Regions from separate parts of the Homo sapiens genome. Here region 1 is linked to region 2. The links come from fine-mapping of genetic effects on gene expression. A gene starts in region 2. The other region holds a variant in brackets. All regions are shown on one strand. Distances are between the middles of the regions.

The links.
Region 1: its variant is fine-mapped to the expression of GYS1 in whole blood (INTERVAL, PIP 0.98).

Annotation. Positions count from the first base shown.
Region 1 is chr19:48,967,354-48,972,680 of GRCh38, reverse strand. GYS1 (glycogen synthase 1) reads left to right here. Exons shown (of 16, transcript NM_002103.5): 13 at 1,658-1,753; 14 at 1,972-2,135; 15 at 2,826-2,906; 16 at 3,070-4,551. The coding sequence ends at 3,393. Among named protein-coding and RNA genes, the nearest start is that of FTL, 4.7 kb to the right of the region's middle. RefSeq lists a cis regulatory region at 1,333-1,853 and enhancers at 1,830-2,357, 4,123-4,352. The variant T/A (reference allele first, on the strand shown) is at 1,911.
Region 2 is chr19:48,991,301-48,996,622 of GRCh38, reverse strand. GYS1 (glycogen synthase 1) reads left to right here and starts at 3,314. Exons shown (of 16, transcript NM_002103.5): 1 at 3,314-3,628; 2 at 5,140-5,321. The coding sequence starts at 3,511. It overlaps RUVBL2 (RuvB like AAA ATPase 2), which reads right to left and starts at 2,736. Exons shown (of 15, transcript NM_006666.3): 1 at 2,700-2,736. The coding sequence starts at 2,711. RefSeq lists enhancers at 2,838-2,927, 3,618-3,757 and a silencer at 3,048-3,407.

The DNA of each region.
Region 1 (5,327 bases), 24 kb after region 2:
ATGGTGAAACCCTATCTCTACTACAAATACAAAAATTAGCTGGGGGTGGTGGCAGGCACCTGTAATCCCAGCCCTTCGGGAAGTTGAGGTGGGAGAATCGTTTGAACCCCAGAGGCAGAGATTGCAGTGAGCTGAGATCGCGCCACTGCACTCCAGCCTGGGCGACAGAGTCAGACCCTGTCTAAAATAATAATAATAATAATTATAGGTCAGGGGCAGTGGCTCACACCTATAATCCTAGCATCTTGGAAGGCTGAGGTGGGAGGATAGCTTGAGCTCAGGAGTTCAAGACCAGCCTGGACAACATGGTGAGACCCTGTCTCTATAAAAGATTTTTTTTTTTTTTTGAGACAGAGTCTTGCTCTATTGCCAGGCTGGAGTGCAGTGGCACAGTCTTGGCTCACTGCAACCGCCTCCCGGGTTCAAGTGATTCTCCTGCCTCAGCCTCCAGAGTAGCTGGGACTATAGGCGCCTGCCACCACACCCAGCTAATTTTTGTATTTTTATTAGACACAGGGTTTCACCATGTTGGCCAGGATGGTTTTTTTTTTTTTCTCTTCTTGACCTCGTGATCCACCCGCCTTGGCCTCCCAAAGTGCTGGGATTACAGACATGAGCCACCGTGCCCGGCCTTTTTTTTTTTTATTTTTAATTAGCCATGCGTAGTGTTGTGTGCTCGTAGTCCCAGCCTCTTGGGTGGCTGAGGTGGGAGGATTGCTTGAGCCTAGGAGGTCAAGGCTGCAGTGAGCTATGATCAAGCCACTGTCCTCCAGGTTGGGTGATAAAGTGAGACCTTGTCTCGAGAAAAAAAAAAAAAAAGCATTGGGCCAGGCGCAGTGGCTCACACCTATAATTTGACCACTTTGGGAAGCCAAGACGGATGGATCACCTGAGGTCAGGAGTTCAAGACCTGCCTGGCCAACATGGTGAAACCCTGTCTATACTAAAAAATACAATAATTAACTGGGCATGGTGGTGTGTGCCTGTAGTCCCAGCTACTCGGGTGGCTAAGGCACGAAAATCGCTTGAACCCGGGAGGTGAAGGTTGCAGTGAGCCGAGATTGTGCCACTGCACTACAGCTTGGGTGACAGAGTGAGACCCTGTCTCGAAAGAAAAAAAAAAAAGCATAAAAATCCATCAAAAAATTATAATACATTCCTTGAACTATTTCTCAAGGTTGTTAAAGGTATTAAACAAGACGTACTAGATGCTCTGTACACAGGGATACTAATAATGAGAGACCTTATCTTACCCCCCATCAAAATAGACTAAGTCCGTACAAGATACTGGCACAAGAAAGGATCTTACAGGTTGTGACAATTAAGTAGAATGATGGACCTTGGCCCGATCCTACAGGTTGTGAGAGTTAAGTCAAATGGATATTGGGATGCTCAATAAATTAGCATCCTTATCTCCCAACTATGGACTTTCCCGCATCTTGGAGCAAGAGCAAGTAATTCTCTTTTCTGAGCCTCTTAGCGTCCCCTCTGAGAAATAGGGAAATGCACAGCCTGGTTGTGGGGGCTCAGCGACGCTCCGCACAGCGCCTGGCACTTGGTACAGGCGCCAGTAGAGGGCGGTGTTGAGGCGTCTATTGCGATTAAGACGGTAGGCGATGAGGGAAGCTAAGTGGGTCTCTCTCCTGCCTTCCCGCAGCTGAGTGCACGGTTATGGGAATCCCCAGTATCTCCACCAATCTCTCCGGCTTCGGCTGCTTCATGGAGGAACACATCGCAGACCCCTCAGCTTACGGTCAGCGCCCAGGCCCCTGAGGATTCTGGAAGGGGGCTTGAGAACAGTGACTCCTGGATCCTGGGAAGGAGGAGCTTGCACCCTTGGAGACCAGGGGCACCAGGAAATGGGGGGGCTCTCGGGCCGCTGGGAGAGGAGGGGTCCTGGTGCCACAGAG[T/A]CCTGGAGACCATGAAGATCTCCCCAGGATGTTTTCTGAACCTGGGTCCTGGCCTCCACAGGTATCTACATTCTTGACCGGCGGTTCCGCAGCCTGGATGATTCCTGCTCGCAGCTCACCTCCTTCCTCTACAGTTTCTGTCAGCAGAGCCGGCGGCAGCGTATCATCCAGCGGAACCGCACGGAGCGCCTCTCCGACCTTCTGGACTGGAAATACCTAGGCCGGGTAGGACCCCCACTTTCCTATCCTCTCCTGGCAAATCAGCAGCTCCTGGCTAGGGGTCTTTGGTGCAGGGTGCAGGGTCTCATCCTACTTGTAACAGTTGCTGTCCCTTTAAGCAATGAACCAGGCCGATCGCGATGGTGGCTCATGGTTGTAATCCCAGCACTTTGGGAGGCCTAACAGGAAGGATCGCATGAGCTCAGGAGTTAAGAGACCAGCCTGGGCAACATTTTATTTTTACTAAAAATAAAAAAAAATCAGCCGAGCGTGATGGTGCGTGCCTGTAGTCCCAGCTACTGGGGAGGCTGAGGTGGTAGGGTCGCTTGAGCCCCGGAGGTTGAGGCTGCAGTGAGCCTTGTTCAAACCCACTGCACTCCATCCTAGAGTAACAGAACAAGACCGTGTTTAAAAAGAAAAAAAGAACATTGGTCAGGCGTTCTCATTTGCATAAGGGTGTGGCCAAAGAGGAGACTCACTTGAGAATTCGGCCCCTGTTTGAGGGGTATGGCTCAGAAACTGTCCATTCACAGGTCTGCTTATCTACATAAGGGGTGGAGTCAGATAGATGGATTATTTGTATGGGGTGCAGCAGTGTGCTCATCTGCATAAAGGGTGTGGCCAAGACCCCCATCATCTGCCTGGGGGTGGGGCCTGGCTCTCACATCCTCTGCCCCCTCTCCTCCTTTCCCCTAGTACTATATGTCTGCGCGCCACATGGCGCTGTCCAAGGCCTTTCCAGAGCACTTCACCTACGAGCCCAACGAGGCGGATGCGGTGAGTGGACCCTGGATTTCTGCTTAGCCAGGAGCTAAAGGGCTGGGCTTCGGTGGGGTGGGGGTCCCTCCTGGAGTGGGAAGGCCTAGAGGTGGCTGGATGCCTGGGTGGGACTGTGAGGTCCTCAGCTCACCCTGGTTTGCACCCACATCGCCGTATGCAGGCCCAGGGGTACCGCTACCCACGGCCAGCCTCGGTGCCACCGTCGCCCTCGCTGTCACGACACTCCAGCCCGCACCAGAGTGAGGACGAGGAGGATCCCCGGAACGGGCCGCTGGAGGAAGACGGCGAGCGCTACGATGAGGACGAGGAGGCCGCCAAGGACCGGCGCAACATCCGTGCACCAGAGTGGCCGCGCCGAGCGTCCTGCACCTCCTCCACCAGCGGCAGCAAGCGCAACTCTGTGGACACGGCCACCTCCAGCTCACTCAGCACCCCGAGCGAGCCCCTCAGCCCCACCAGCTCCCTGGGCGAGGAGCGTAACTAAGTCCGCCCCACCACACTCCCCGCCTGTCCTGCCTCTCTGCTCCAGAGAGAGGATGCAGAGGGGTGCTGCTCCTAAACCCCCGCTCCAGATCTGCACTGGGTGTGGCCCCGCAGTGCCCCCACCCAGTCCGCCAAACACTCCACCCCCTCCAGCTCCAGTTTCCAAGTTCCTGCACTCCAGAATCCACAAAGCCGTGCCTTTCTCTGGCTCCAGAATATGCATAATCAGCGCCCTGGAGTCCCCTGGGCCTGGACCGCTTCCCAGAGGCCAGGAATCTGCCATTACTCTGCGGTGGTGCCAGAGGTTTTAGGAAACCTGGCATGGTGCTTTCAGGTCTGGGGCTTTTAGAGCCCCCCGTGTGGCTTACAAATTCTACAGCATACAGAGCAGGCCACGCTCAGGCCCGGCATGCGGGCCACCAAGTTCTGGAAACCACGTGGTGTCCCTGCGAATGGGGCGATCAAGTCCAGAGCCGGGGCACTTTCAGAGTTTGAAGGTAACTGAGAGCAGATGGTCCTCCATTTCAACTCCAGAAGTGGGGCTCTGGGAGGGATGTTCTAGCCCTCCCTGGCATGTCAGAGCCAGGCTCTGCCTGGAGGATCCCTCCATCCGGCTCCTGTCATCCCCTACACTTTGGCCAAGCAAGAGGTGGTAGAACCACTTGGCTGCTCATTCCTTCTGGAGGACACACAGTCTCAGTCCAGATGCCTTCCTGTCTTTCTGGCCCTTTCTGGACCAGATCCTACTCTTCCTTTCTAAATCTGAGATCTCCCTCCAGGGAATCCGCCTGCAGAGGACAGAGCTGGCTGTCTTCCCCCACCCCTAACCTGGCTTATTCCCAACTGCTCTGCCCACTGTGAAACCACTAGGTTCTAGGTCCTGGCTTCTAGATCTGGAACCTTACCACGTTACTGCATACTGATCCCTTTCCCATGATCCAGAACTGAGGTCACTGGGTTCTAGAACCCCCACATTTACCTCGAGGCTCTTCCATCCCCAAACTGTGCCCTGCCTTCAGCTTTGGTGAAAGGGAGGGCCCCTCATGTGTGCTGTGCTGTGTCTGCACCGCTTGGTTTGCAGTTGAGAGGGGAGGGCAGGAGGGGTGTGATTGGAGTGTGTCCGGAGATGAGATGAAAAAAATACATCTATATTTAAGAATCCCAGGTGTGGTCAGACATGACACTTGGTGGGCCTGGCTGTGACGTCCCCCCAGTACCACCCCTTCCCTGGTCTGAGCTCATCCTCTTATTCTAGAGAGACTTGGGGGGTCTCCCTATGTTGCTTAGGCTGGTCTCAACCTCCTGGGCTCAAGTGATCGTCCTGCCTTGGCCTCCCAAAGTGCTGGGATTACAGGCTTGAACCACCCTGCCCCAGACCCAGGGGAAGGAGAAGGGGAAGAGTCAGAGCTGACACAGCAGTTTTGCAGCTTGGACACAGCAAGTGCTTTTTAAGGCCTGTTTTAAGCTTCTTCAGTTCCCATTTGGAGAATCCGGCCCAAGGTTTCACATCCCATTTCTGTGATGAACCCTAAACCCCTTGTCCAGCATTGCTTGGGCATCACGTGTTCCTGGCTGCTCAGCTCCACTGGCCAGTTCCTCTCAGTGTGCGCCTCACATTGGGATCACTCAAGCTCGGGCCATAATCTCTTAAACTCTGGAGCAAAGACCTCAGTGAGCCCCCCGGTTGCCATGCAAGTTGCATAGCAATAGCGTCAATGTGCCCATATAAAGGGCCTAATAATTCCAACTGCCTCCCAGAATTGAGGCTTTTTTCTTTTTTGAGACAGAGTCTTACTCTGTTGCCCAAGCTGGAGCACAGTGGCGCCATCTCAGCTCACCGCAACTTCCGTGAGGCAGACATGTTTTTTGTTTGAGATGGGAGTTCCACTCTTTTTGCCCAGGCTGGAGTGCAATGACGCCATCTCAGCTCACTGC
Region 2 (5,322 bases):
ACCCAGGAGGCGGAGGTTGTAGCGAGCAGAGATCGCGCCACTGCACTCCAGCCTGGGCATCAGAGCAAGACTCTATCACTAACACACACACACACACACACACACACACACACACACACAGATACAAAAATTAGCTGGGCGTGGTGACGCGCACCTGTAGTCCCAGCTACTCAGGAGGCTGAGGCAGGAGGATCATTTGAACATGGGAGAGAGGCAGAGGCTGCAGGGAGCCAAGATCACACCACTGCACTCCAGCCTGGGAGACAGAGTGAGACTCTGTCTTGAAAAAAAGAAAAAACAAAAAAACAATCCTGGATGGTGGATCTTTGCATGTCTGTTACATTATTTTCTGACACTTTGGAATAGTTCATAATTTCTAATAAGGAAAAGGAAGCCTAAGAAGCTAGCATGCTAACCGAGGCCACCCATCCCCAGGTCTCCTTCCTTCCCACAGGTTTGTGTTTTTTTTTTTGAGATAAGATCTCATTTTGTCCCCCAGGCTGGACTGCTGTGGCCTCCACCTCCCAGGCTCAAGCAATCCTCCCACCTTAGTCTCCCAAGTAGTTGGGACTACAGGTGTGTCCCACCACACTTGGCTAATTTTCTTCTCTTTTCTTTTCTTTTTTTTTTTTTTTTGAGACACAGCCTTACTCTGTCACCCAGGCTGGAGTGCAGTGGCGCGATCTCGGCTCACTGCAACCTTCGCCTCCCGGGTTCAAGCAATTCTCCTGCCTCAGCCTCCAGAGTAGTTGGGACTACAGGCATGTGCCACCACGCCCGGCTAATTTTTTTTGTATTTTTAATAAAGACGGGGTTTCACCATATTAGCCAGGCTGCTCTCAAACTCCTGACCTCATGACCTGCCCGCCTCGACCCCCCAAAGTGCTGGGATTACAGGTGTGAGCCACCGCACCCGGCCTAATTTTCTTATTTTTTTGTAGAGACAGGGTTTCGCTATGTTGCCAGGGCTAGTCTTAAATTCCTGGGCTCAAGCAATCCTTCTACCTCGGACTCCCAAAGTGTGGGATTACAGGCGTGAGCCACTGTGCCCAGCCCACAGGTCTTTCTTCTCTTCTTCCCCTAGAGAGGACATGCAGTTATCCAGCCCAGAGGAAGCCTCCTCCCTCTGGAGCCAATCGTTTAGACTTTCTGGCCATCAATGGTCACAAGCTTTCCCTGTCACTGTGTGAACCTTCCCACCTACCGTCTCCTATAGGAAGCTGGAACCCAGGAGCATAGAACATTACCCCCAGACTACAAGCAGAAGACTAGGCATCCCCACCCCACAAAAAAGACATGAATCCAGGAATCCCAAATGTAGCTCTCTCAACATAAACAGGCCCCTTACCAAGGACTGTCTCCTATAAAGACTTTCTCTTTCATCATAAGTCTCTCCAAAACCTTGCTGCCCGCTGTTCCCATGAAAACCAAGGTCATTTCAAAACTCAGCACACACCGTCCCCTCATACTTCCAATACTTTCTCCACGGTAGTTCTGGTCATAGCCTTCCTCTTCTACTTCCCTATCCACCTCCTCCTCCTCCTTGCCCTGGTGACAGCAACAGACTCAAATCTCATCCCCAGCTACCAACAACTTTCTCCCCCTCCCTTCCTCCATCTTGACTGGGCTCATCATGGAAATTGAGGCACCTGTAAGCCCAGCCCAGTCCCTAAGTTCAGGTCACATTACCTTTTTTTTTTTGGAGACAGAGTCTCGCTTTGTCGCCCAGGCTGGAATGCAGTGGCGCGATCTTGGCTCACTGCAACTTCTGCCTCCCAGGTTCAAGCGATTCTCCTGCCTCAGCCTTCTGAGTAGCTGGGATTACAGGCCTGCACCACCACACCTGGCTAATTTTTGTATTTTTAATAGAGACGGGGTTTCGCAATGTTGGCCACGAACTCCTGACCTGAAGTGATCCGCCCGCCTCGGCCTCCCAAAGTGCTGGGATTACAGGCATGAGCCACCACGCCAGGCCAAAATCGCTTCTTTATTCAGGTAATTGAGCAGGTGCCAGGCCAAGTTTCCTGGCCTCTCCTTCATTCACATGTATTCATTCATTCAAATATTCAAGTGATAATTTATTGAGCATTTACACTGAGACGTAGCCCGTGTGAAATACTGGAAATATGAAAATGGCCAAAACGGTAGCATGACAAGATCCCGATTTCTGGGTCCCTAATCCTTCAGTCCTCTCCACTAAGACTCTCTTGTTCCTCGACAATTTCTTCCCACTAAAGGCTCACTAGGCGCCCTCGCGCTCTCAGACACACTGAACAGGTACCTGCCTGTGCTTCCAGCTTGGAACTCAAGTGCCATTGGCACCACTAACAATCCAAGGCTCCCAAATGGCTCGAAGCGCAAGGTCCTACAACCCTCCTCATCACACACTGGCGCCAAGGACTGCGGAACCGGCCGTTGCGCCAAGATGATTTTGAAAGTTGGAGTTCCTATAGCATGATGGGGCCAGACCCGAGATTCTGGGATCCCAGCCCCCTCCCCGCCTCAGATCCAGAAGTCCAGCCCCCATGTCCCCTTCTCCCCCAGATCTGGGTGGCCGAGCTTCCTCCTCTTTCAGACCCAGGAGTCTGAACCCCCAGATCCCCCCTCCCTCAGACCCAGGAGTCAGGGCCTCCAGCATCCTCCTCTCTCAAACTCGAGACTGCTAGCTCGCTCCTCACCCTCCATGCACCCACACTTACAACGGTTGCCATGATGCTCACCAACTGCCAGAGTCCTAGCGGAAACGGAAACGCGCGAGGAGCGAGATGTTCTGGCTCCTCTAGGCTAGCTGGTTCTTCAAAGATCTCGATGGTTCCTCATAAATATGTAAATATTGTGGGGGCGTGGCGGGACTTTATGCCCCGCCCTCCCACCGAGGCTGCGCTGGAAGACGGGCGTCCGGAACTCCTGGGTCCATTCCCAATGTCTCCTGGCTCCTCCTCCTTTTGCTCAGCCCCACCACCGCCCCGCTCAGGCCGATTGCAAAATTCTTAGCTGTTCTTTGAGTAACCACACGTCCTCCACGCTCCTTTCCTCTTTATCCCACCCTCCTCCTCCTCCCCACTTTGAGGCCTCCAGCTCCAGATTGACAGAGCTGAAGGCCACTCGTTTCCGTAAAGCGCAGCGGCAAGCTCCGCCCCCTGGAGGTCTCACGGCCGAGGCGGGGCCGGGACACAGCGACTCCAACCCGTTCCACCAATGAGGACACGCGGAAATCCCCGCCCCCGGGCGTGGGCCAATGGCGCTGGCTGGGGGGGGCGGCCACCGCCTCCTGGCGGCTGCGAGGTTTCACTGCAGGGGCGCCAGTGGGCTCAGTGACGCTGCGGCCTCCTTCTGCCTAGGTCCCAACGCTTCGGGGCAGGGGTGCGGTCTTGCAATAGGAAGCCGAGCGTCTTGCAAGCTTCCCGTCGGGCACCAGCTACTCGGCCCCGCACCCTACCTGGTGCATTCCCTAGACACCTCCGGGGTCCCTACCTGGAGATCCCCGGAGCCCCCCTTCCTGCGCCAGCCATGCCTTTAAACCGCACTTTGTCCATGTCCTCACTGCCAGGACTGGAGGACTGGGAGGATGAATTCGACCTGGAGAACGCAGTGCTCTTCGAAGTGGCCTGGGAGGTGGCTAACAAGGGTGAGCACGCCAGGCGTCGGGGCCCTTGACGAGAAGGACAGTAGTGGATGGGGGCCCGGAACTCTGAGTTGTAGGAGGACGGGGCTACTAGGGGAACCCTTGTGACCTGGGCAAGGAGGCTGTGTCCTTGAGGAGGGGCTGGGAAGCCGGAGGTGGGTGGGAGAGGGATGGTTCGTTTGACTTAAGATGAAAGGAGGCTGGAAGCCCGGGTTCTGGGTCCTAGGGAAGAGGGCGCTAAAATGAGACTCCTAGGTCCTGGAGGCAGGCTTCCGAGAGACTAGATACCTGGGTCCTGAACAGGGAAGGGGATGGGGGGATGGGATTTCTGCGTGCAAACCTGGGAAGCTGCCGGGGTTTCAGACCTATGACCCTAACAGCATGGTCTAGGGGATAAAACTCCAGATTTGAGAGAGAGCTGACTGGGAGATAGGAGGCCTGAGCGGCGGTGGGAGGACCTGAGGATCTGGCTGCTTAAGAATAAAGATGGGACGGGCTGGAGACTGTAATGAATGCCTGGGCTTTGAAGGAGCTGAGGGCCTGAGCTATTAGTTCCTAGGAGTAGAGGAGCCCATGGCCTGGGACACATGCGTACTGGAATAGGGGAAGGCTGGGAAGTCCTAAGTTAGTCAGAGGCTGGGCCCTAGGATGGGAGGGGCTAGGAGCCTGCATTTCTGTGTCTTGGGCTTCAGAAAGCTGAGGTTCTGGCCTTGGAGAAGGCTGGGGCTGAAATCCCCAGGAACAAGCCAATCTCACACCTCAAAGAGCAGGGTCTGGGGGGTTGCTTTGCTGGGTCTTGGAGGAGAAAGGGACTGTGTCTCCCAGGAGGAGAGGGGGCCCGTGAACACCCAGCCGGGTATCGCCAGGGCCTGGGCTCCAGGATGGGAGGAGGCTGGGGGCTGGGGCTCCTGGGTCTGGGATAGGGTCATGGGAGAGGCAGAGCCCTGCATGCTGGTGTCCCTAGTCAGGGAGAGGAAATTGGGAGGCAGGTCAGCAAGGTCCCTGGGGGCAGGGAATGACCATGCAGGCTTCTCTTGGGCAATGGTGAGAAGCTGGATTGGCCATGAGGGGGTCTCCCTCACTGGGTTTTGGAGCCTGGCTGCGATTTAAACCCAGCTCCTGTGAGCTGGGAACTCGGGAACCTGAGTCCGGGTAGTCAGTCCTCAGCTCTGCCATCCTTAGAGCCCCAGTGCCTAATTCCTTCAGACCAAGGGGTCCCGGCACCCAGCCCCTTCTCTCTCAGACCCAGAAGTCTAGCCTGAGCCCCCTCCTCCTTCAGGGTCCTGACCCCAGCCCCCTTCTCCCTTAGACCCAGGAGGACTGCCCTCCAGCCCTCGTGTTCCCCTCATCCAAGCTTCCAACCCCTACTCCAAACTATGGGCTCCCAGTCCCCTCTTCCCCCTGAGCTAGAGGTCTGGGGCCTGAGTGCCCCCTACATCCCCGGCCCACCCCACCCCAGGCCCCAGAACTATGGACCTCGGCCGGGGCCTGCCCTCACACGCTTGGGCCCACAGTGGGTGGCATCTACACGGTGCTGCAGACGAAGGCGAAGGTGACAGGGGACGAATGGGGCGACAACTACTTCCTGGTGGGGCCGTACACGGAGCAGGGCGTGAGGACCCAGGTGGAACTGCTGGAGGCCCCCACCCCGGCCCTGAAGAGGACACTGGATTCCATGAACAGCAAGGGCTGCAAGG